Regions from separate parts of the Homo sapiens genome. Here regions 2 and 3 are each reported to be linked to region 1. The links are microRNA targets in miRTarBase. Many come from high-throughput screens and were not tested one by one. Region 1 holds a microRNA gene; each other region holds the end of a gene's coding sequence.
Evidence for each region. The annotated mature microRNA hsa-miR-6733-5p reads UGGGAAAGACAAACUCAGAGUU and lies in region 1 at 5,211-5,232, shown strand. An mRNA with a match to its seed (bases 2 to 7 or 8) in the 3' UTR can be bound and repressed. Matches are read on the target gene's strand: a 7mer-m8 pairs with bases 2 to 8, a 7mer-A1 pairs with bases 2 to 7 and ends in A, and an 8mer does both.

Region 1 (8,337 bases):
ACCCTCCTAACTCTGAGCCTTTGCTAGTCTCTCGGCTACTCCCCCTGCCCTCCCACATCAGCACAGCCAGCTCCTTCCTTTCCTTCAGTCTTCACTCAAAAATCACTGCTCAGTGAGCCCTCCCCAGCCTCCCTATCTACAACTTCTTACTCCCCCAACGGCTTCACTTTCCATGCTTTGTTTGTTCTTATTAGCATCTATCACTATCTAGCATGTAGACTGTACTTCTTTTTATTTTGTTTGTCACTCTCCCCTCTTAGAATGGAAGCACTGTGAGGACAGCATTTTATGTGCATATGTGCGTGTCTATTTTGTGCCTGGAACACAGGGGGTACTTAATACATTTTTGTTGAGTGAACAAATGAATATGTTGAGCCTCATCATGACTCTGAGCTGAACAAGCTGAGCATCATCTGCATCTTACAGATGAGGAGACTGAGGCTCTGTGAGCCTATAAAATGGGGAGCCAGATCAAAGCCAGGTCTCCCAATGTCATGACCTTTATATTTTTCCCTTCACCGGTAATACCCTTAGACTTGGTCAGTGGAGATCCTCCCTTGGGCCTCAAATTTTAGAGCATCCCGGAGTCTTTCTCTGGCTGTACCCCTTACCATTAAGTGGGATACAGTGGCTGCCTGGAGTTTGTCCTGCCTCTTCTAGATCACGTTGCAGGTACCCAGGACTCTGGAGTTCCCTGCTCAGATAGTCTTGAGCCTGCTGACAAGACCAACATTGGGGGTTTCTTCCCAGGCTGTCTCTACTCAACCTGGGCCTGAAGGATGGGCACAGGGTGGTTGCTTATAGAATATATGGGTAGAATTTGAACATATGGGCTGCAAGGATCCACCCACATGTGTACAAGGCCCCTGGTGATATAAGATGGAGTTAGGAGCAGAAGAGAAGTGATACAGTAAGAAGTGTAAGAATATGAGCACAATAACTGAAAGTAAAATCTCAATGGATACATTAAACATTAAGTTAGATGCAGCAGAAAAGAGAAGCAATGAACTACGAGATACATCTAAAGTAATTATCTAGAATGCAACACAGAGAGAGTAAGGTATAAAAAATCCAAATAAGAGTTCAAAAAAAAAAAAACCCAAAAACATGAACGTCAGGTGTGGTGGCTTGCACCTGTAATCCCAGCTACTTGGGAGGCTGAGGTGGGAGGATGAGTTGAGTTCAGGAGTTCAAGACCAGCCTCAGCAACATAGCCAGACCCCATCTCCATAAAAACAATTAGCTGGTCAAGGTGGTGCATGCCTGTATTCCCAGCTATTCAGGAGGTTAAGGTGGGGAGGATGGCTTGAGCCCAGGAGTTTGAGACTGCTGTGAGCTATGATTGTGCCAGTGCACTCCAGCCTGGGCAACAGAGTGAGACCTGGTTTCTTAAAAAATAAATAAATAAAATAAAATAAAATAAAAAACTGGAAGGATGGAGTTGAGATGGTTTGGAGTTCCAGAAGGAGATAACAGAACAAAAAAGATACCTGTCCTTAGATCCAGGAATCTCAAATAATCCCTAGGAGGATAAAAAATGAAAATAAAAACTATACTGATGTGTGTGTCTGTATCTATATGTATGTATATATACTATGTATATATACATGTACATATAGTATATGGTGTGTGTATATATGGTGTGTATTTTATACGTATATATGTATATGGTGTATGTGTATAGATACATACACACACACACCATAGACAGAGAAGATATTAAACATCCAGAAAAAAAGATCATCTACAGAAAGACGATGCTGATAGCTAATTTCTTAACCACAGCAACAAAAGAGAAGCCAAAAAAACACAATGGAATATGATCTATAATATGCTGATAAAAATTTCACACCTGTTGAAACTATCTTTCAGAAATGAGGATAAAATAAAGTCATTTTCAGACAAAAACTGGGAGAATTTATTAATACATTATCAGTAAATGCAGAAGGAAAATGATCCCAGCTGGAATATCTGATTTGTAAAGAGTAATGGTGGGAAAAAGTTTGGTAAGTATGAGAGCAAATATAAATTAATGTTGTCTGTAGAAAACCATAATTTAATTTATATTGGAAAGTCATATGATCTTTTTTATTTTTGTTTTTGAGACAGGGTCTGGCTTGGTTTCCCAGGCTGGAGTGCAGTGGTGCGATCTTGGCTCACCACAACCTCTGCCTCCCGGGTTCAAGCAATTCTCCTGCTTCAGCCTCCCGAGTAGCTGGGACTACAGGCACGTGCCACCACGCCCAGCTGATTTTTGTATTTTTAGTAGAGACGGGGTTTCACTATGTTGGCGAGGATGGTCTTGATCTCTTGACCTCGTGATCTGCCCACCTTGGCCTCCCAAAGTGCTGGAATTACAGGCATGAGCCACCACACCTGGCCAGATGTCCATTTTTATTGCCCCTAATCAACACTGTCTGGAGGTGCTTACCAGCACAGGTAACACAAGAAAAAGGAAGAAAGTCATCGTTATTTGTAGATAACATGATAGTCTATGTAGAAGTCTCTGCATAATCTATAGACAAATCATTAGAATTAATAATAATTTAGCAAATATGCTGGAAATAAACATCAATAAATTAAAGTCAACTGTATTTAATACAGCTTATTCCAACAGAATATTATGTGGTTGATAAATTTGACTTTATTAAAACTAATAATTTTTGTCCATCAAAAGATACTTGTAAGATGGGAGAAAAATGCCCCAAACTGAAAGAAATTATTTGCAAGACATATATATATATCTGACAAATTATTGATATACAGAATATATAAATTGTGCATGTAAATCAATAAAATTGCCCAAAAATATCCTGCACAACAAACTGTAAAAAACAAGTAAAAGACTTGAACAAGGCATTTAACATACGACTAAATAGGAATAGCCCATAAACAGATACTCATCATCATTAATGATAGCAAAATGCAAACGAAAACCACAATTCCTTTTCTCAACCATTGGGTTAGCAAAAAATTACGAAGTTGGACAATACCAAGGGTTGGCAGGGTTGCTGAGGAATAAGAACTCTTATGCACTTCTAGTGGGAGTGTAAATTGGTACTATCATATTGCTCAGTAATTTTAGTCCTGGCTGTGTGCCCTAGAGAATCTGCACAAATAGATGAATGTATATGCATGCAAGAATGTTTATAGTAGTATAGTTTGTAATAGCAAATGATTGTTATTTCCCAAATGTCCCTCAATATTAGAGTGAATACATATATTTGAGACATTATATTCATATGATGGAACACTACATAGCAATAAAATGAACTTGGCTATATGTATCGAGATGTGTGAATCTCAAAAGCATGACATTGAACTGATGCAGCAAGACACAGAATACAGGGAGAAGCACTAGAACTGGTAATATTCTGTTTCCTATGCTGGGTGGCTGGGTTCACAGATCTACATTCTATTGTAATTCTTTAAATATGACATATATGTAGGGTACATTCTTTTGTATGTATATGTCACAATAAAAGGTGTCAATGCAACAAAGAATGGGAAAATGGATTCGGTTGTTGAAATAATGAATATCATTAACAGGACCACTGTGAACAAAAATAAGGGCTGTAATGCTATACAAATGGTTATTTGCGACTTGGGATAAAGTTTACAGTGTCTTCATCATACTTGGATTCAAACGGTGATATAATGAAGGTGGTGTGCTCAGGAAAACTGTTAGACAACTCAAAAAGTGGCTCTGGTGATGACAAAGGCAGTGATATTGAAGACACCAAAAGAGGGGTTCTTAACATATTTTCATGAAATTACAGTGAAAAAAGTACTTTTAAATTAACATTTTATATGTGATTTTAACTACATATGCGTGACTGATTAATCTAGTTTCATAATACAAGTCGCCATTTATTTCCTCTACATTTATAATACTGCATATATATTCAAATTGGCCAAAATCTTTCTTTCCAATCATCATGCTGGGATTATGGGGTTATATGTGGCACATACCATTCCTGTATATGTCAGGATGGAAAAAGTTTTACCTGGAATGAATTTTTGCCATTTCTGATCCACATTGTACTTCACACAGTGATTTCCTGAAGGAAATATAATGATCTGTTCATCGAAGTAGAAGATATTGTTGGCCACGTGGGATCGAAGACCAAAAACATGCAGCGTCTGAGCTACCACGGCTGACATGATCTCCCGCCAAACAGTTCTGCTGAAGACCAAGGCAGCGCTTCAGAGTGGAGAGCACCGCCCCGCTCCGACCCCGCCCCCGGCCCGGACTCGCCCTCCCCGCCCTTTGCTCCTCCCCTTGTCTCTCCCCTTTCTCCTCCCCTTGTCCCTCCCCTTTCCCCTCCCCTTGTCCCTCCCCTTTCCCCTCCCCCGGGGTCCTCCTCCGCGCCACCCCACCCCCGCGGCTCCTTTTTCTGCCTTTTCCTTTGTACCCTCACTGCTACCAGCTCCTTCTGGCGACCCCCAGGTACCCCCTCCCACCTTTCGTTTCTCTCTGGGTCAGCAGACCACGCATGTATCCAGAGGCGCTACCTGTAGGGATCCTAAGCAACCCGGACACTTTCAAACGCCGTAGCGGTTCCTATAGCAACGACAAACCGGAAGTATGGTTTGCCGCCGGAAGCGGAAGTCCCAATCAAAAGTTGAGCAGTAGCTGTGAGTTGCTGGCGCTGGAGCGATTCGGTGGCACGTGGAGCCACGGCGTGGGAGTAGGGGGCTGAAGGCAGGCAGCAGCGGCCAGGGCCGCCCTCTGCTAGCCGCTTGGGTCTCGGGATACCCCGTTTCTTCCTGTAGGTGTGGGACGTGCGTGCGGCGAGATGGACACTCCCCCGCTCTCGGATTCGGAGTCGGAATCCGATGAATCCCTTGTCACAGACAGAGAGGTAGGTGTCAGCCGAGCTCGTGGGGCTGGGCGTGGGAGAGGGGGCCTTACACCCCTGGGAGTGACCGTGATTGTGTCCTGCAGTTGCAGGATGCGTTTTCCCGAGGGCTTCTGAAGCCAGGCCTCAATGTCGTGCTAGAGGGGCCGAAGAAGGCCGTGAACGACGTGGTGAGCGTGGGCACAGGGTCGGGGGTACTCGGACATGGGATGCGCTTCAGGCGCTGTTGGGCTTGGGAGACCGATTCTTGTCCCAGGAAAGATGCACCCTGCGCCTCGCCAAGAGGGTCAATTACCTGTCTGGGTATTGGGGATTAGCACTTTGTCCCTTCGCCTAACAGCCTGTGCTTGGGAAAGACAAACTCAGAGTTCCCTTCTTGTGAGCTCAGTGTCTGGATTTCCTAGAATGGCCTGAAGCAATGTTTGGCAGAATTCAAGCGGGATCTGGAATGGGTTGAAAGGCTCGATGTGACACTGGGTCCGGTACCGGAGATCGGTGGATCTGAGGCGCCAGCACCTCAGAACAAGGACCAGAAAGCTGTTGATCCAGAAGACGACTTCCAGCGAGAGATGAGTTTGTATGTTTGTTTTCAAATGTTGGAGAAGTTGAGGATCCTTGTGCAGGAGAGTGGGAAAGAGGGGAAATTAGTAAGTCTGCACTCAGAATAAGCCTAGGAGTAGAGAGAGCGGCTTCTTTTGACTAAGAATAGCTAGGAGATTCTTCCTGTTTGAGAGAAGAGCTCTTTGGTCCACGGTCACGATCCAAAATCCACTTTATGGGCTAATTTGAAATATTCATGTTAAAACTTTTTGTGCATGCTTCAGTTATTAGGAAAACAAACAAACAAACATTGCTTATGGGATGTTCTTGTGTGGAATTGCTTTAGTAATTACATAAGAATCCATAATCGACATTCGTTTGTGTTAATGGGTACCTTTAGAGTAGTCATTCTCTTAAACTATTTTTAGCAACACCCCTCCCCTTTTTAAAAACTAGTATACGGCTACATTTCTTTTAGATACTAAATCAGTGAGACAGTTTTTGTTTGTTTGTTCTTGCTAATGGAGGTCAGATTTTGAGAGTCCTTCTGAGCTTGGATAACTCATGATTGGCGGTGAAAAGGAACGTAAGGCCTCCTCCTTCACCTCATTACACATTTTGTCCTACGATTCTCAGCTATCGCCAAGCCCAGGCCGCAGTGCTTGCAGTCTTACCCCGCCTCCATCAGCTCAAAGTCCCTACGAAGCGACCCACTGATTATTTTGCGGAAATGGCCAAATCTGATCTGCAGATGCAGAAGGTAAGAAATAGAAGTTTTCCTCTGGAAAGTCAAAACTTTGTACTTAAGCATATTCAGCTGGCTTAGAAAGATAGCTATGAGCCCAATAACGGGGAGCCAGTTGTCAGAGGACAATTATTACCTCTTCCATAGATTGGCTACTTCAGAGTCATGCCAGTTACCACCAATTAGATGCATATAAAAATGACATTTTTTCTAAAATCAGCAATTAAGGAGAGGAACAGTGCTGTGTGAAGTGTGGTCCCCGAGGTGAAGATGGCCCAGTGCATTTCCTAGCTGGCATGGTCATGACATGGTGTGCAGAGAGGACAGCATTCTTGTGCCCTTGCCACTGTCAGTGCTAGAACTTGTAGACAATTACTTTTCTCTGGGCCTCAGTTTTCTCCTCTGTAAAATGAGGGATTCTTAGATGGTTCAGATATAGTACAATTTAGAGTTGGGTAGAACTTGGACCTCATTTAACTTTGGAAGAAGGGATTGCCAGCATGTAATCCAACATACATTCAGCCCTCCATAGCCATGGGTTCAGCATCTGTGGATTCAACCAACCTTGGATCAAAAATATTGGGGAAAAAAATTTGAAAATATTGCAAAAGGAAAACTGAATTTTCCGTGTGCCGAGAACTACATTGAATCCATGAGAATGAGGTGATGCATAGCATTGTATTCGGTATTATAAGTAATCTAGAGACTATTTAAAGAAGCGGTCTGGCACTAGAGACTAGTTTCGTGGATGACAATTTTTTCATGAACTTGGGGAGGGGATAGTTTTGGGATGAAACCGTTCCATCTCAGATCATCAGGCATTAGATTCTCATAAGGAGCAGGCAACCTAGATCCTTTGCATGCATAGTTCCATGCATAGTTCACAGTAGAGTTCGCACTCCTATGAGAATTTAACGCCACCACCAATCTGACAGGAGGTGGAGCTCAGGTGGTAATGCTTGCTTGCCTGTCACTCACTTTCTGCTGTGCGGCCTGGTTCCTAACAGGCCACAGATTCATAGTGGGTTCGTAGCGGTCTGTGGCCTGGGAGTTGAGGTCCTCTGACTTTAAAGGATACTGGAGGCGAGTGTAGGTTATATGCAAATGCTGCACCATTTTTATATAAAGGACTTGAGCATCTGTGGATTTTGATATCTGTAGTGGGTCCTAGAACTAATCCTCTATGGATACTGAGGGATAAGTATATTTAAATAGTACCCTGGGGTCTCAAGCTGGATTTTAGGGAGCTTTTGTCGTGGTAGTAGTTCACCTTCTTACTGTGAACTCTGTACAAATTCTCACTGACAACTTCTCATCCTTTAACTAAAATGTGTATGTTTGACTGAAAAGGCTAGGCACCTGGTATCTGCCTGGGTTTTTATTGTGTATGTGGTATACTAGAAAAGGACACTGAGGCCGCATACTGGTTTCCAGCCTCAGTCTACTGACAGTAGAAATGGGGAGAAGTTTGTCTTCTTTCCTGGGCTACAAATAGGCAGTTTGTATAATGAAACAGACAGCACACTGGGAGCGGGAAGGTGACTTTCAATCTCTGGCTTCACTCTGGCACTTTTGGTAAAGTGCTCAGCCTGTGGGCCCCATTGTCCTCAGGGGTTGGAACTGATGATTTATAAGTTCCGCAGTTTAAAGAACAGGGAATATCTGTTCCCTGCTCTAGCGAATCCTAAGTAGTGGTCATTCCAGATTCAAATGACATGAACTGACAGCATTTTGTGTTGTAGATTCGACAGAAGCTGCAGACTAAACAGGCTGCCATGGAGAGGTCTGAAAAAGCTAAGCAACTGCGAGCACTTAGGAAATACGGGAAGAAGGTGAGAAGAAAAGTGTGCAGGGAACAGGAAGAGGCGGAGTGTGTGTTAGATGAGATTGCCGTGGTCTGACTTGGTCCCCTGAACTGAACGGAACTGTGTGTTGATCATGTATTTACCGTCTCTCAGTGTATGTGCTGGTATTCATGAGCACAATCTTGCCTGGACATGAGTGGTTCCCCAGGAGTAGTATGGTGACTGCAGGTGAGCCAATCACCTCTCTGGGCGTTAGTTTTCACATCTGTACACTGGGTCCAGATGAGTGGTTTCCAAACCTGACCTTATAGCAAAATCACCAGGGGAAATTTTTCAAAACAGAATTCTAGACTTCAGAATCCCCAGGAATCTGTGCCTGTTTTCC
Region 2 (7,668 bases), not on the chromosome of region 1:
TGTTCTGCTGGTCTGTGGGACAGTTGGTGGGACATGTGGAAAGCTGGGAAACGCGTGTGTGTGTGCTCACTGCAGTGACACAGCATGGCCATATCCGTTTGCTGTGGAGGTGGGGTTGACAGAGGAGAGAACCGAGGCCCAAGAGGTGAAGCAGCTTGTCTGAGGTCACCCCGGGCGACCAGGATGCAGGCCTGCAGATGTGCACTTTGGAGCTCTGCCTGGAGCTGGGGTGGAGGAGCCTGCCTGCTGCCTCGTGCCCTCTGCCGGGCCTGGGGGATGTCCCAGGCCCAGGGCTGGCTGCTGTCCTCCTGCTCCTCTTGCTGGAGTAAGCAGGGCCTGGGGTTTGTTAGCAGCAGCGGCAGCAGCAGGAGCAAGGCTAGGAGGCTGGAAACAAGCCACATCCCAAAATAGCTCTGATAACCATGGGGCAGGAGGGCCCAGCCAAGCCTCAGCCCTGACAAGCACAGCCTGCAGCTGGCCTCCCTCCCCACTGGGCCTGGGCTCAGTCCCTGGTTTCCACTGATGGCCTGTAAGGCCCACTCACTCTAGGCTTTGTGGCCCACCTGAGAAGTGGGAGGCTGGCCTGGGAGATGGGACCCTGTGACTCAGAACCCGAGGCTGTGTACAGCCCCCGTGGCTGGAGGTGGTCACAGAGGCCTGGCAGGATAGGTGCACTGGAGCAGGGGGAGGTGGCGGGAGTGGACGGCAGAGGTTGCTGCAGGCTGGCAGGAGGCCCCTGGGACCTCAGTTCTGTGCCAGGATCTGTCGGGGAATACCAGGGGTGAGCAAGTATGGAGATGGGGTGGCAGGGTGTCACCCTGGGCAGGCTCTTTTATGGGCATGTGAGGGGGTCAGGGTGGGGTCTCAAGACCTTTCCTCCAGAAACTTCAGCCCAGCAGCGCCCGTTCTTGAATCCTGGGGTTGGCCATGAGCAGGTGGGACAGAAATAGCAACAGCTGGAGACGTGTGACCTTGAAACCGGGGCACTCTGCTTGGTGGGGAGCTGCTGGAGCCTCCTTAAGGTGGTTGGGGTGGGGAGCCAGGTTCTGATGCCCCCCCCGCCCCCCCACCCCCCCCAATCCCCCGCCCCCCCACTCCCCCCACTCCCCCCCACTCCCCCCCCACTCCACTCCCCCCCACTCCCCCCCCACTCCCCCCCACTCCCCCCACTCCCCCCACTCCCCCCACTCCAGGCTATAAGCGGGACCACCTGTCCTTCAGGTTCTGCGAGACGCTGCACCTAGTGGGCTGCTGCCAGCTGCCCACTGTCCGCACCCACTGCTGCCGCTCGTGCTCTCCGCCCAGCCACGGCGCCCGCTCCCGAGGCCATCAGCGGGTTGCCTGCCACTGACCGTGCCAGGATGCACAGACCGACCAACAGACCTCAGTGCCCACCATGGGCTGTGGCGGAGCTCCTGCCCCCTACGCCCTACGCCCTACGCCCTAATGGTGCTAACCCCCTCTCACTATCCAGCGGCAGGCTGGGGACCTCCTCCCCCCTCAAAAAAAGTATTTTTTTATTCTAACAGTTTGTGTAACATTTATTATGATTTTACATAAATGAGCATCTACCATTCCAAAGCACAGCATGACTTCATCTTGGATTTGGAGAATCTTAAAAGTGAGAAACTCTTCCCCCCACTCCTCTGCCCAAAACTCCACCGCCACAGCACCTCGGCAGGCGCGGCTTTTCACCTGCTCCTCTGGGGCAGATCTGCAGGGTACAGAGCAGCAAACAAGTCCGTGAGAGCATGGCGTCTGGTGAGGCACGGGCCTTGGAAGCTGGGGGGCTGCTGCCCAGGGAGGGCTATCTGCGGAGGGTCGGGTTCTGGGGGCAGGAAGGTCTTCCGGGCAGGGGCACAGCTTGGCCCTTACTTGCTGCCTGCCTCTAGCTCGGCTCCCAGCTTTCCCTGGGGCCCCACTCTGTGGTCCTCAGAGACCTGTTCCACAGGGATTGGGCCCACCTTGTCACTTGCAGGACTGCCCCTTGGAGTGATGGGGACTGGGGCCCCCAGGGGCACCTCCCTGGGCCTGTTGTATCTGTTGACTCTTCTGCAAAAAGTAGACAGAGAAGAGAGCAGGCTGGCCCGCTGTGCTCTACTGTGTCTGTCCCAGGACTCGGAAGGTAGGGAGGGAGCGTGGCCAGGGCGGCTGCCTGCAGGTGCGTGTCCTGCTGCTCCCCAACTCAACATGCTCACCTCATTTCACACCAACAAGCCCCATCCTCAGAGGAGGAGCCCAAGGCTCTGAGAGGAAGTAACTGGCCCAAGGGCACATGCCCTGGTGACACAGGCCCATCCTAGGCCCTGACTGCCCACCTCCAAGTTCCAGGCCACCCTGAGCAGGCCCCAGTGGCAGCTTTGCACAGAGAGGGCAGCCTGCCAGAGTTCACACAGGAAAGCAAGTTGCTGGGCAAGCTAGAGTGAGTCCCAGCCCCGCTGTGCTGCCCGAGGGTAGAGGAGCGTCAGGCGTGCTTCCTGTCTGTCTGCAGCAGCCCGGCTGGCCCAAAGAGACTCTAGGGACCCAAGCTCTGAGTCATGGCTTCCCAGGCCTTAGTCAGAACGGCCCCTGGTGGCACTCCCTTCCAAGGGGTGGGGAGCAGGGCCTGTCGACTTGCTCCTGACCCACACACGGAGCCAGTCCCTGTCCCAGCTCTGCCCCAGCTCTGCCGCCGCCGCTCTGCTGCGTGACTCCAGGAACCCCCAGCCTCGCTGAATCCATGTCCGCAGAAGAGAAAAGCCTGCCAGGCCTTGGCCTGCCCTGTCTGGGAATCCTTGCTGGAGCCACCCCGAAACACCCCTATGGGAACCCCTTTGGTCTTTATCATTCTTGGGTGTTTTCCACTGATGACTGCGGGTGTGCCCAGTGGCAGCTGGGCCTGAGCTGTCAGCCCAGGCAGGAGACAAACAAGCCTGTGACTCAGGCAGGGCATGGCACAGCTGGCGGAAGGAGGCATGCCTGTTCTTTGTGGCTGGGCGGGGGGTTATCCGGACACAGGGAGTCTCCAGCTTCCGGCTTTCCCACCTCGGTGCCCCCAGCCCACACCTGCAGCTTGGCCATGGTTCTTGGGGCCTCCCAAGGCTGCCCCTGCTGGCAAAGGCATCCTGATGCACCCGCCCCAGGGTGAGCCAAGGGCAGAGACACCCAGAAACGCCAGGCTGGAAGGTTGGAGAGCCCCTCCTCGCCCCCCGCAACACCAATAAGCCCTGCCCCACCCTCCAAGCCCTTGGGGTGAGCCCCATCACCAGTGACTATAACTGAATTTCAATGCAGAATATTATACAAATTAGTAGTTTATTTCTTCCTTTAGTATTACAGTTCCAAAACGTAACTTGAAGGTCAGCACAGGAGCTGCTGTGATATAAAAGGAGAGAGTCACCTGGCGCCCCCTGCAGTCCTCCAGTTGCCCAGCAGCAGTGGGACGTTCAGTGGCACACAGTGGGTCTCTGTATGGCCTCCCACCTGCAAGGACTTCCCCGGGCAGGCCCAGCTGCCCAGAAGCCCCGGAACACACAGGAAGACAACACTATAGGATGGCAGGTGGGGATCTGTGCAATACAAACATGTAGCTAGAAAACCCAACCGAGGATCTGTCTAGAATACTTCCGATATCAATATACCGTAGTTGAAACCAGAACCGTCTCCAGCTGTCAGCAGTCTTGGCGGCTACTGTACAGCTGTCAGCATGACTACAGGCAGCGCCCGAGGCTATCTGGGGTAAGAAGTGGGCCTGCACATCACATCGGTGAGTCAGTGAGAGTCAGGGCCAGAGGGAAAAGCAACTCGGAGGCTGAGGCTGGCACAGATACACACAAGGGAGTCACACACATAACATAATAACTTGTTATATAAAATAGATATGTGGAATCTAGAAACACCTTGAGAAAATAGCCTATAAAAATATAAACTGTAGTGAGAGTGTACAAAAGTATTAACAGAGGTTCAACCCATAAAAAACCCCATCCATTTAAAAGTTGGCAATTCCTAGCAGGTGTTGGGAGGGAGCTCCCCTCGGTCCTGGTGCGCACGTTTGGACAGGCCTTTGGGTTTCCCAGCTGGCAGGGTCCCCCTTGCAGGGGCCACGGGCTGGGTGTTGGGGTGAAGGTTCAGAGGAGGAACAGCAGCTTGGGGCAGCCCCTGTCAGAAGGGCCCCCTGCCATGGCAGCCAGTGGAGGCCAGGGACCTTCAGGGCACTGGAGGGGACAGAGCAGCTCTTTCCTCAGTGACCCGAGGGAGGGGAAGTGTTAGCGCAAAAGAGTGGGGCCCACAGTCCTGGAAGGAGGAGTTGGCTCCGTCCCGTTCCCAAACTTTAACCAGGCGGAGCCGCCCTCTCTTGCCTTCTGGACACGCATCACTTGATTCCAGGCAGGAGAACCTCTGAGAAAGTGTCCCCAGTCCCTTTCCTCCAGGAACTCTCCTGCTGTCGCACACACACACTGCCCGGCAGCTGCTGACAACTGCCTGGAAACACTAACATACCACCGTGGGTTGCAGCCACGACGGGCCCCTGGTCAGGTGCATCTCTCAGGGCAAACTGGACAACACGAGCCTGTCCCTAAAGGCAGCTCTTAGCCCCAGGACATGGCAGTGTGTGCTGGCATGTTCCAGGGGCCATTGGCTCGGAAAGTAAAACCTCAGGGCCCAGCCCCATTCCTGCTGCACCTCCTCAGCAGCCGCCCCCCAGGCTGACAGCTGTCGTTTCACGATGGGCTGAGGGGTGGGGGGGGTTCCAACACTTGATTCGAGCAGACTGCAACGCCCAGCTCACAGGACAACTGAAGGAGTCAGACCTCAAACTGCTGCTCTCAAAGACAAAGACAATGACAAAACCCATTTTTGATGCCTGAAAAGAGGCAAAGGCTTCTGGCTAAATATAGAGGCCAGCTCCGTCTACCCAGTGAAACATTAGTGGAGTTGGTTAAAGACACGAAGCCGGAGCTCACTCTAGCATGTGCTGAAACACCAACTTTGCCGTGGCATTGCCAAAAAGTTGACAGCAAAAAATAGGAAAAATACTTCTTAAAACTGCATTGCTTCAATTCTTAGTCTCAGTGTGTTCACAACAAAGGATGATTTCCAGTTTTTTTCGGGTAATATGAAACATTCCACTGAGATCATTTATCTTGTATTTTCATAACACTGTGCCAGAAAACATCCTCTCACATCTACGCATCAGGGATGGTCTAGAGCGATTAAGCAAAAACAAGCTCCTTGCTCAAAGCCTCTCCCCAGCCTTCAGAAAGGCAGTCCTCTGAGTTCCCAGAAACTGCTGTGTCAGAGGCAACAGTGCCCCTGCATCCTGGCAGAGAACAAGGATGTTCCAGGCAGTGGTGGGGTGGGCACACATCTGGGAGAGCTCACCCAAGCCTGCCCCAAGCAAAAAAGTTTCCCAGCCCCAGGCACTGGCAGCCGGCCTCCTGCACAACCCAGGCAGGTGGAGACACCAGGAGCACTGGCCATCCCCAAGGAGGCCATGGTTTTCAGCTGTCCAAGAGCGTTCACGCTGCGGCTGCACCACTGCCCTGCAAAGCACCCCCGAAAACATTCCTCCATCCCCTCAACCAAGGCCAGCCCAGGCGTGGGCCTGCTTTGCAATATGACGGTCCACTGTTTACTTGGAATCCCATCCCATCGTACTTGGTGAATGATTTCCACAAGTCAAGAAGGGCATTCCACAGAATCTCACAGAGCCATGCCTGGCACGGGGCAAGCTGGGGACAGAGCAGCCCAGTGATCTGCAAACACAGGCTGGCCATGAGAAGTGAGGGTGGGTGTCTGGGCAGCCAGGCCCTCCCCATGCAGGCTGGAAGACACTGATGGAAGGGTTGCGTGTGGAAGAGCAAAGGCTATTCTAGAAATGGGGCATGGCTGGCAGCTTAAAGCCACTGGTGGGAGGTTCACAGGCTTTCCTACAGTGGCCATTTCTGAACAAGGGATGTGCCTGCTTTTCTAAGGCAGCCCCTTTTCATACCAACCTTATGCCTGAGGCAGCAACCCTCTGGCCTACAGGTGCCTAAAGCACAGCTGGCATCCTTTATAGCACTGCCATTCAAAACCACACACCACTGCCCACTATGTACAGGAGAGAGAATATGGGGAGATGCCCAGCAAAGCAAGGTTTCAGAGGGTCAGAGCACCGACAGGCTGACGGAGGCTGGAAACAGGCTCTTGCAAATAGCCACTGGTAAGCCTGAGGATCCACCAACCAGGCAGAAAGCGTGACTGAGATACGTGTAACCAAAAGCATGGCACGGAAATGGTTGTAAACAGATTAGACCTCCCACCCCTGCCCCCCGCACAGTGGGAAATGAGGAAGGGCAGCCTGGCTTGGGACATCTGCCCAGCAGATCCCCAGAGGACACACACGTTACATTCTGGCTTTTAAGTGCACTTTCACCCTTTGGGCACACTTTGGTTGTGAAGGAAGGAAGAGCAGCATCCCGAGCCCACTCAGGTATCCTCCTCCTCGTCACTGACCAGCTCACCCTTGTCAGGGCTGGTGTCCCGCTCACGCAGGAAGTCCTCACGGATGGCCTCCAGCTCGGTCAGCTCCAGCCGGACTTTCTCCAAGTGGTAGGCGCGTCGGTTCCGGATCTGGCGTAGGGGGAAAGGGTTCAGGTCCCCAAAGGAGATACTGATCAGCTTCCTGGCAGGACGCAGGGGAGAGACAAGAGAATCAGCGGCGCTCCAGAGAGTGCTCACACACAGCCCTCACAGGCATAGCAGGTGGCCTGGGGCAGGGTGGGAAGAGCGCTGGCCAGGCTTGGGGCCTGATGTAGGGGATGAGGCCCACCTTCTGTAGAGAGGTGACAAAGCACAATGGCCCAGCCAGGGGCAGGCTCAGAATGACGACCTGGACTCCAGCTCTGCCACATGCTTGCTGTGTGACTGAAGTCACCCCCCTTTTCTGGCCTCTGATCTTCATCTGCACACTGGGGTAAGAGTAGTGCCACCTCCTAGGGTGTGGGATTACTCGTGTTCCCACACATAAGCCCTGAGAAGAGCTCCCGGCACTTGCATGGTGATGGCAGGTATGTCTTCATCCTTGGGCGGGCATGAGGCCTGGCACCGGGCACGAGTCCGGGACGTCTGTGTCCCAGGACTCATTGACTGGGAATGAACACAGGCCCAGGCAGTCCTGGCGATGACTGTCAGACCCAGTTGGCAATGTGACAAGTGTCCAGATGCAGTCTACAGAGAAATGTGCAGCTTGTGGGTTTCACATCCCCAGGTCAAGGCTCCAATTTTCAATAAAAATGTTAAGGTTATGATCCACTTGCTCCTAACCACTGGTCAGTGGCTTAATAAAAACAAGACCAAAAGCTGTCCTGAGGCCTGGCTATGGATTTGTAGCACTAATGGGTCAGCCACACTGGTCTCTGGGGATCACAAAATAGGCCAGTTCCTAGGGCCACCTTCTTCCCCTCTCTGGATTCTGCCAGGCCCCAAATGCTTTGTATCCACCAACATGGGCTCATGCGCTTCCCTGTCAACCAAAGGCCCAACAGACTCACCAGCCCCAGGAAAAGCTGTGATGAAACAGAAATGCCCCGAAGGACTTCCTGCCTGTCCCCATCAGAGCAGGCCATTTGCTCCTGCTGCCGTCGGCTGCGTGGGCTCCTTTTAACACAAGGCACACACGAGGGTGCAACCTTTTATGTTTCAAAA
Region 3 (7,668 bases), not on the chromosome of region 1:
GGGGGTGGCAAGGAACTTTTTTGTACCTGTTAGCATAAAAGGTGATCTGCATCATAAAGTCGTCTCATTGTCATTATTTGCGGAAGGTACATGCTTTTTTCTAACAGCAACATATACATTCTTCCAGAAAAATTCATTTGATTTTTCTAACTTATTTTTTGTTTCCATCAATGTTTTCTTTTCAGACTTGGCTTCAACCAACTCAGGACATAGCGATTGCTCAGTTTCTATGGGAAACCTTTCTCCTCTGGCCTCCCCAGCCAACCTCTTACAGCAGACTGAGGACCAAATTCCTTCCAACCTAGAAGGACCGTTTGTGAACTTACTGCCTCCCCTGCTGCAAGAGGACTATCTCCTGAGCCTCGGGGAGGAGGAAGGCATCAGCGATCTCTTCGATGCTTACGATTTGGAAAAGCTCCCACTGGTGGAAGACTTCATGTGTAGTTGATTATGCTTCGTGTGAACTCTCCTTAAAAACCGATATTTTTTTATCATGGAACCAGAACATCTGTCATGCAGTGTTGTCCCTTCCTACCTTCTTCCTCCAAGAGAGTATCATGAAGTAAACTACAAACTTCAGAAGAAAGCTGACATTTTAATGAATTTTTTAAAAAATTAATAAACAAATTGTCTAAACGCACAGTTGCAGGCTCCCTTGGGAAAGCCCTGCTTTGCTCCAGGCTCCAAGATCTCCTGGCTAAGTCAGCAAGTGAGAAAATGTGCAATCAGGTGTCTCTCACCCCGAATTGTCCTTCCTCCTTCCTCCCCGGATTGGCTTGCTGTGCCTGACGGATGGGCTGTAGAATGGGGTCTGGCCACCTGGCCTGCTGGGAAACAGCAATCTTCCTTAATAGCATTTCAAGCCGTGCCTTCTCCGCAGAATGCATGTCTTTGAGGTCTGCTAATATGGAATGGAACTGCAGCAAATGCAAACTTGAAGTCATGCAAAAGTATGAAATGGATTTCTTCAGCTCTTCTTAGGAATATTTAAATTACTGTCATAATTCAGTTTAAGCTATGAACTGTGTGTCCCAGTAGGAGGTCAAGAAAACCTCCACAGCCTTCTGGATGAAGAACCTGTTTTCAAATATACTTGTTGCAGATACAGAAGACTAGTAGAGTTCTGCCACTCTAAGCTGTTGTGGATTTTCCTGTCTCCATGAACCACTCCCATTCCCCCGTCCCCAATGTGTTTGTGAGTTTCCAGTTGATTTGTAGCAAATGCCTACTTAGTTCTTTGTGGATTGTTCTAGACTTTTAATTTTTTTAGCTGCCATTTAAGCATTCCTGTGGCACCCATCACCATTTCAATTTAATTGTTTACTTTGAAGCGGTTTTTGCAAATTCATATTACTTAAGCAGAGGGAGAGAACCTCTACTGATCAGAGCATCTAAACCTGTGTGATCTAAGGTTTATCAGCCTCTGCAAGGAGCTTTGTCCCATCGTGCTTCCATTCCCAGGAGGGGGAGCTTGGAGCGAGTCAGTCCTGGGGCTTGCTGACATGGGTGGCCCATTGGAAAGGAGAACCAGGTCAGATGATGTAACAGCCCCAAGGAGCAGCAGGCATGGGTCCCTCCATCCTTGGGCTTCCCGGGCCCCTGTGACAGGGGAAAGGGCTCTCTTACACCGCACTCAGGGAGACCACTTCTCAGGATGGGGTCAGATGGAGAGACCTCTAGGGAGAAAGACATCCCCATTGTGTGAGTGGCATTTCCTTAAGCTGGCAGGAACAGGGAGCAGCCCTGTGTCGGGGGCTGGAATAGTTCTGGCCAGACCCCGTTCCCCTTCCTCTATGAAGGAATAAGTTGGACCAAGGGAAGTCGGGGACGTAAAAAATGAAGCAAAACAATGCCAGGGTGTCTCCCGCTTTACTCTTCAGGAATGGTGTCCCAAGTTGGAGGCTTTGTGTCAGCTGCAAATCCTACCAGTTATGTCCAAGAATGGCTTTCCCTCGGGCAGGTGGCAGCGGCCATCTCCCACTGGGAATATGGCGTAGTATCTCCGGTCCATTCCTTGGATGCTAAGGACTGCGGGAATGAGGGAGTCAGATAAAGAACAAACCTCGAAACGAACAGTTAAATTGAAATGCTATGTGCCTGACCCAATGGTAGGCACATAGTAGGCACTCAACTCATATGTTTAATTGAATTGAAAATATCCCTTAGGAAAAAAAAAAAACACACAAAAAACCACAAGAGCCCCAGCCAGTTTACTCCAGGTAGATTTCCACAATATGCAAAGTGGTGGTGGGGTCAAGACAGATGACACCAGCACTTTAAACTCTTTGTGTGGGTATGCGTGGGTGTATGTTTGGGAAGAAAAACAAAGGTGCAGACTATCTTCCTTTTTTTCTTCTTCAGCCTCCATCCCTGGCCTCCTCCCCTCACACACACTGGACTTGGTACAAAATGTCGGTGTGGTCCTAGATGAAGCATTGGGGTGGGGGAGGGAGAGGGAGCTTTGTGTTAAGTGCCTACTGGAAATGCACTGTGGGGTTTTTTCCTGTATGGGAAACCATTTATGCCAAGCTTTTCCCCATTTCCCATATTTATCTCATCTGGTTAGCTGCCTCTGCTTCCAGCTTTGTGTAATTCTCTTTGCCAGCTGCACAAAGCTGATTTTTTCCAAAGTCTAAAGACTGAGCTCACCTGGCTAGATTGTTGTGTGTTTTGTTGAATTTTTTCATAATGTAATGCCGTATTTATTGTTTTTAAAATGAAAGGAATACTAATAAGTCTTAAAAGTTCCTTCATGCATAAGATTTTTTTCCAGTTACTGGGTTTAACTGGTGTACATTAATTAGATGTCCATACTGTATTTTGTTTGCATTAAGTAATTTTCTTTTTGACTTAGTATCCGGCACACAAAGTGGGTTAGTACTACAGTATTTGCGTTACTTTAAGTACTAAGTATGCAGGTTTCCTGGTACCATTGAGTTGCTGCTATTAAAGCTCACACACGAAATGGCTAAAAGTTACAAGTGTGCAAATTATGACTGCGTGAGCCTTAGAAAATAAAATGTATAAAGGGCAACACATGAGCTGTCAAACAGTGTTAGGAGTGTGTTTATATGTACAGAGTTGTGCATAGCAATCGTTTTATTTAAGTTGATATGTAGTCTACTCACATTTTCATTATTTAGCAATTTTGTACAAAAATAGCAATTAATTTGTAAACACTGCCAGAATACTTTCTAGCTGCTTTGTAATTTTTTAAGAGTGTTATTTTGTTTTTGTTTTTCTGTTCTTTGTTGTGGCTCTTGTTTTCATTTTTGTTGTACGTGTAGATCTGTAAATAAAATTGCAGTATTTAAAGCTTAAGCTTTCAGGAAAAAGAAAATAAGAATTCAGTGTGTGCATGACAACTCGTGTGTATGAGAAGGAGGGATATGAAGGAAGATGGCTTGCAGAGTAAGTCGGGTGGCAATTGTCAGGGTGTGGGAATTTCTTTTCCTACGGGGTACGTGATTTTGTAAAAAGGAAGTATTTCTCCCAAAATTGGGAGTAGGCAAACTACTAATCAGTTTAGCTTTGTGTTGTATGCTAGTTTAAAAAAGAAAATATGTAATATAATGTAAAAAAAAACAAAAAAAAGCTTTTATGATGGATTTTGTAAATAGATTTGTTACAGGGTGACCTGTTCTCTAGCTGTGATCTTACCACTTCAAATGGGTGTAATTTGAATAAATTTTGTATGGTAAAGGATCAATAAAATGATTTTTTTTAAGAGTTCAGGCTTGTGGATGGGTTTTCTTTAATATTATCTTGTGCTCCTCTATTAATTGAATTTTTTTCATTTTCTTTTTCTTTTTTTTTTTTTTGTTTTGTTTTTTGAGGCAGAGTCAATCACTCTCACCCAGGCTGGAGTGCAGTGGCACAATCTTGGTTCACTGCAACCTCCACCTCCCGGGATCAAGTGATTCACCTGCCTCAGCCTCCTGAGTAGCTGGGACTACAGACACCCGCCACCACGACTGGCTAATTTTTGTATTTTGAGTAGAGACGGAGTTTCACCATGTTGGCCAGGCTGGTCTCGAACTCCTGACCTCAAGTGATCCGCCTGCCTCGGCCTCCCAAAGTGCTGGGATTACAGGCATGAGCCACCGCGCCCAGCCTATTAATTGAATTTTTTAAAACATTCTTAAACAAGTTAAGGAGAAAGGCTAAACAAAAGCTTAAAACATCGTTTGCCTTAGACGGTATTTGGGACTCAGAACACTCAGCAAATATTTGGTGACCACTTCCGGTGTGCTCTGCACCCTGTGAAGTAGAACTTACCTTGTCCCTTTGACCATGTGCAGAAACCACTCGGACACTGAGTAATTGTTACACTGAGAAAGTGACAAATTTGACTCCTCGTAAGGGTTATAAAGCCAATACATTTTAATTCTGAAATCTGGTAATTACCTCCCATGTTCTAGATTGTGTATTTCTAGTAATGCCATCTAGGAGCAGATTTGAATTTTTTGACTGCCATGTCACACTGTTAACTCTGAACTTATCATTGAAAAACCTCAAAGTGCTATATATTGTACACACACAAAATCAATATAAAAGGGTATGAAGTTTAAAAAAAAAGGGCAGGGGGGGACGTTACCTGCCCCTCTATGCTATTCATGCCAGAGATAACCACTGTTCGCATTTTTCTTGTATTATCCTTCCAGTCATTTTCTAGGCACATATCTGTGCATGAACATGTGTATTTTATTTTATTTTGTTTGTATTTATTTATTTGTATGAGACAGAGCCTTGCTCTGTCGCCCAGGCTGCAGTGCAGTGGTGCAATCTCAGCTCACTGCAACCTCCGCCTCCTGGGTTCAAGTGATTCTCTTGCCTCAGCCTCCCGAGTAGCTGGGATTACAGGCATGCACCACCACGCCCAGCTAATTTTGTATTTTTAGTAGAGACGGAGTTTCACCATGTTGGCCAGGCTGGTCTCGAACTCTGGACCTCAGGTGATCCACCCGCCTTGGCCTCCCAAAGTGGTGGGATTATAGGGGTGAGCCACCAAGCCCGACCTATTTTGTTTTGTTTTTTGTTTTTTGTTTTTGTTTTTGTTTAGAGACAGGATCTCACTCTGTTGCCCAGGCTTGAGTACAGTGGCACCATCATGGCTCACTGCAGCCTCAGACTCCTGGGCTCTGGTGGTCCTTCCCGCCTCAGTCTCCTGAGTAGGTGGGAATAGTAGGCGTGCACCACCAAGCCTGGCTATTTTTTTTTTTATTATTTTTGTGGAGATGGGGTCTTGTAATGTTGCCCAGGCTGGCCTCAAACTCCTGTCCTTAAGCAATCCTCCCCCATCAGCCCCCAAAAGTACTGGGATTACAGTAAGCATGTGTGTTTTAACATGACTTAACATAAGTCATACCATATATGCTGATCTGAAGCTTTTTATTGCTATGTCACATTTTTCCATGTGAGTACTTGTAGATCGTGTTCATGCTCTTCAAAGGCTGCATACCATTCCAGTGATTTAAAAAAAAAATTTTTTTTTTTTTTTGAGATGAGTCTCACTCTGCTGCCCAGGCTGGAGTGGAGTGGAGTGATCTTGGCTCACTGCAGCCTCTGCCTCCCAGGTTCAGGCAATTCTCATGCCTCAGCCTCCCAAGTAGCTGGGATTACAGGTGCCTGCCACCATGCCCAGCTAATTTTTGTATTTTTAGTAGAGACGGGGTTTCACTATCTTGGCCAAGTTGGTCTTGAGCTCCTGACCTCAAGTGATTCACCCTCCTCGGCCTCCGAAAGTGCTGGGATTACAGGGGTGAGCCATCACGCCTGGCCTAAAAATGTATTTAATAATATACTTAGGTGATTTCCTGTTTGAGAGATAGTTTTGCTCATTTTGCTATTAAAAAAATGTAAAGTTTTTAGAATGCTTGTATGTCAGGTACTATATATTTGATGTGGTATAATTCTCGTAACAAAATTTATCATTAGTAACATTTGATAACATTCACAGTGCTGTATAACCATCACTTCTGTCTAGTTCCAGAAGACATTTTCATCACTCCAAAAGGAAACCTGTGTCCATAAATTAGTTACTCCCTATCCCCGACACCTTGCAGTCCCTGTTTTCTGCTTTTTTGCCCCTATGGATTCACCTGTTCTCTATGTTTCCTATAAATTGAATCATGCAACATGTGGCTTTTTGTGTTTAACTTCTTTTTTTTTTTTTTTTTTTTTGAGATGGAGTCTCTGTCGCCCAGATGGGAGTGCAGTGGCGTGATCTCGGCTCACTGCAACCTCCTCCTCCCAGGTTCAAGTGATTCTCCTGCCTCAGCCTCCTGAGTAGCTGGGACCACAGGCACCCGCCATTGCATCTGGCTAATTTTGTATTTTTAGTAGAGACGGGGTTTTGCCATGTTGGCTGGGCTGGTCTCGAACTGCTGACCTCAGGTAATGTAGACAAGATGAATTTGCATTAACCTCATAAAAGTTGATATAGGCTGGGTGTGGTGGCTCGCATCTTTAATCCCAGCATATGGGAGGCCGAGGCAGGTGGATCACCTGAGGTCAGGAGACCAGCCTGGCAAACATGGCGAAACCCCGTCTCTACTAAAAATAAAAAAATAAAAATAAAATTAGCCGGGTGTGGTGGCAGGCGCCTATAATGCCAGCCACTTGGGAGACTGAGGCAGGATGATTGCTTGAACCCAGGAGGCGGAGGTTGCAATGAGCCAAGATCGCGCCATTTCACTCCAGCCTGGGCAACAGAGCAAGACTCTGTCTCAAAAACCAAAAAAAGAAAGGCCAGGCACAGTGGCTCACGCCTGTAATCCTAGCACTTTGGGAGGCCGAGGCGGGCGAATCACAAGGTCAAGAGATCGAGACCATCCTGGCCAACATGCTGAAACCCTGTCTCCACTAAAAATACAAAAATTAGCTGGGTGTGGTGGCGCGCGCCTGTAGTCCTAGCCACTCAGGAGGCTGAGGCAGGAGAATCGCTTGAACCCAGGAGGCGGAGGTTGCAGTGATCCGAGATCACACCACTGCACTCCAGTCTGGTGACAGAACAAGAATCTGTCTCAAAAAAAAAAAATTAAAAAAAGTTGATACAGAACTAGGATGTTTGAATATTTTATAATTTAGAACCTTACCCAAAGTACTGTTTTAGAAATGGGTTTCACTCTGGGGAAAATTTATAAATCAGTTTCAGTAGGGAGATCCCAAGGAAGGGAGGAAGGGAGGGGAGGGAAGGAGGGAGGGAGGACTGAAGGGAGGGAGAGAAGAAGAAATCAGATCAGTCGTAGTAATATTGCGAGACAGAATATAAAACAATACAGAAAAGTGAATTGTATTCAGTGATTCAGTAACCATTAAGGGAAACAGGGTCAGTCACCCTTTGAATGAATATAAAGTGATTGCTGGATGCCAGGAACTGTTCTAGGCGCTGGAGTCCACATTTAAAAAGGCCTAGGTCCTGTCAGGAAGAGGAAGTTTGCAGTCTAGTGTTCAGGGAGAAACGAGTTTTAGCTAGGAGAAGCAAACCGGAAGGCCGGATGTCAAATGAGCTATTTTTCTGACTGAAGCCATTTTTGGAAGAATTGGAAGGACAGATGGTTAGAGGCAGGAATGGAAATGGAAGGCAGATGTAGCCTTGCCACTGGAAAGCTCTACAAAGCCACAGAGGTCCTGATCTAGGGTGGTTTGGAGCTATTCCCAGCCCAA

Region 2: miRTarBase lists TBC1D2B as a target of hsa-miR-6733-5p. Seed matches in the 3' UTR shown: 7mer-A1 at 6,302-6,308.
Region 3: the mRNA of E2F3 is a reported target of hsa-miR-6733-5p. Seed matches in the 3' UTR shown: 7mer-m8 at 1,946-1,952 and 7mer-A1 at 2,540-2,546.

Annotation. Positions count from the first base shown.
Region 1 is chr1:43,168,581-43,176,917 of GRCh38, reverse strand. It overlaps MIR6733 (microRNA 6733), which reads left to right and starts at 5,206; the gene lies at 5,206-5,266. It overlaps EBNA1BP2 (EBNA1 binding protein 2), which reads left to right and starts at 4,628. Exons shown (of 9, transcript NM_006824.3): 1 at 4,628-4,865; 2 at 4,949-5,032; 3 at 5,267-5,439; 4 at 6,039-6,162; 5 at 7,890-7,979. The coding sequence starts at 4,800. CFAP57 (cilia and flagella associated protein 57) reads right to left here and starts at 4,588. Exons shown (of 23, transcript NM_001378189.1): 1 at 4,465-4,588; 2 at 4,008-4,183. The coding sequence starts at 4,164. RefSeq lists a silencer at 4,162-4,361 and enhancers at 4,472-4,521, 4,602-4,731, 4,281-4,916, 4,862-5,091, 4,917-5,553.
Region 2 is chr15:77,991,710-77,999,377 of GRCh38, forward strand. TBC1D2B (TBC1 domain family member 2B) reads right to left here. Exons shown (of 13, transcript NM_144572.2): 13 at 3,276-6,646. The coding sequence ends at 6,451. It overlaps LOC91450 (a long non-coding RNA gene), which reads right to left and starts at 2,516. Exons shown (of 1, transcript NR_026998.1): 1 at 1,524-2,516. It also overlaps the pseudogene ADAMTS7P3.
Region 3 is chr6:20,489,983-20,497,650 of GRCh38, forward strand. It overlaps E2F3 (E2F transcription factor 3), which reads left to right. Exons shown (of 7, transcript NM_001949.5): 7 at 186-3,732. The coding sequence ends at 448. Among named protein-coding and RNA genes, the nearest start is that of CDKAL1, 41 kb to the right of the region's middle.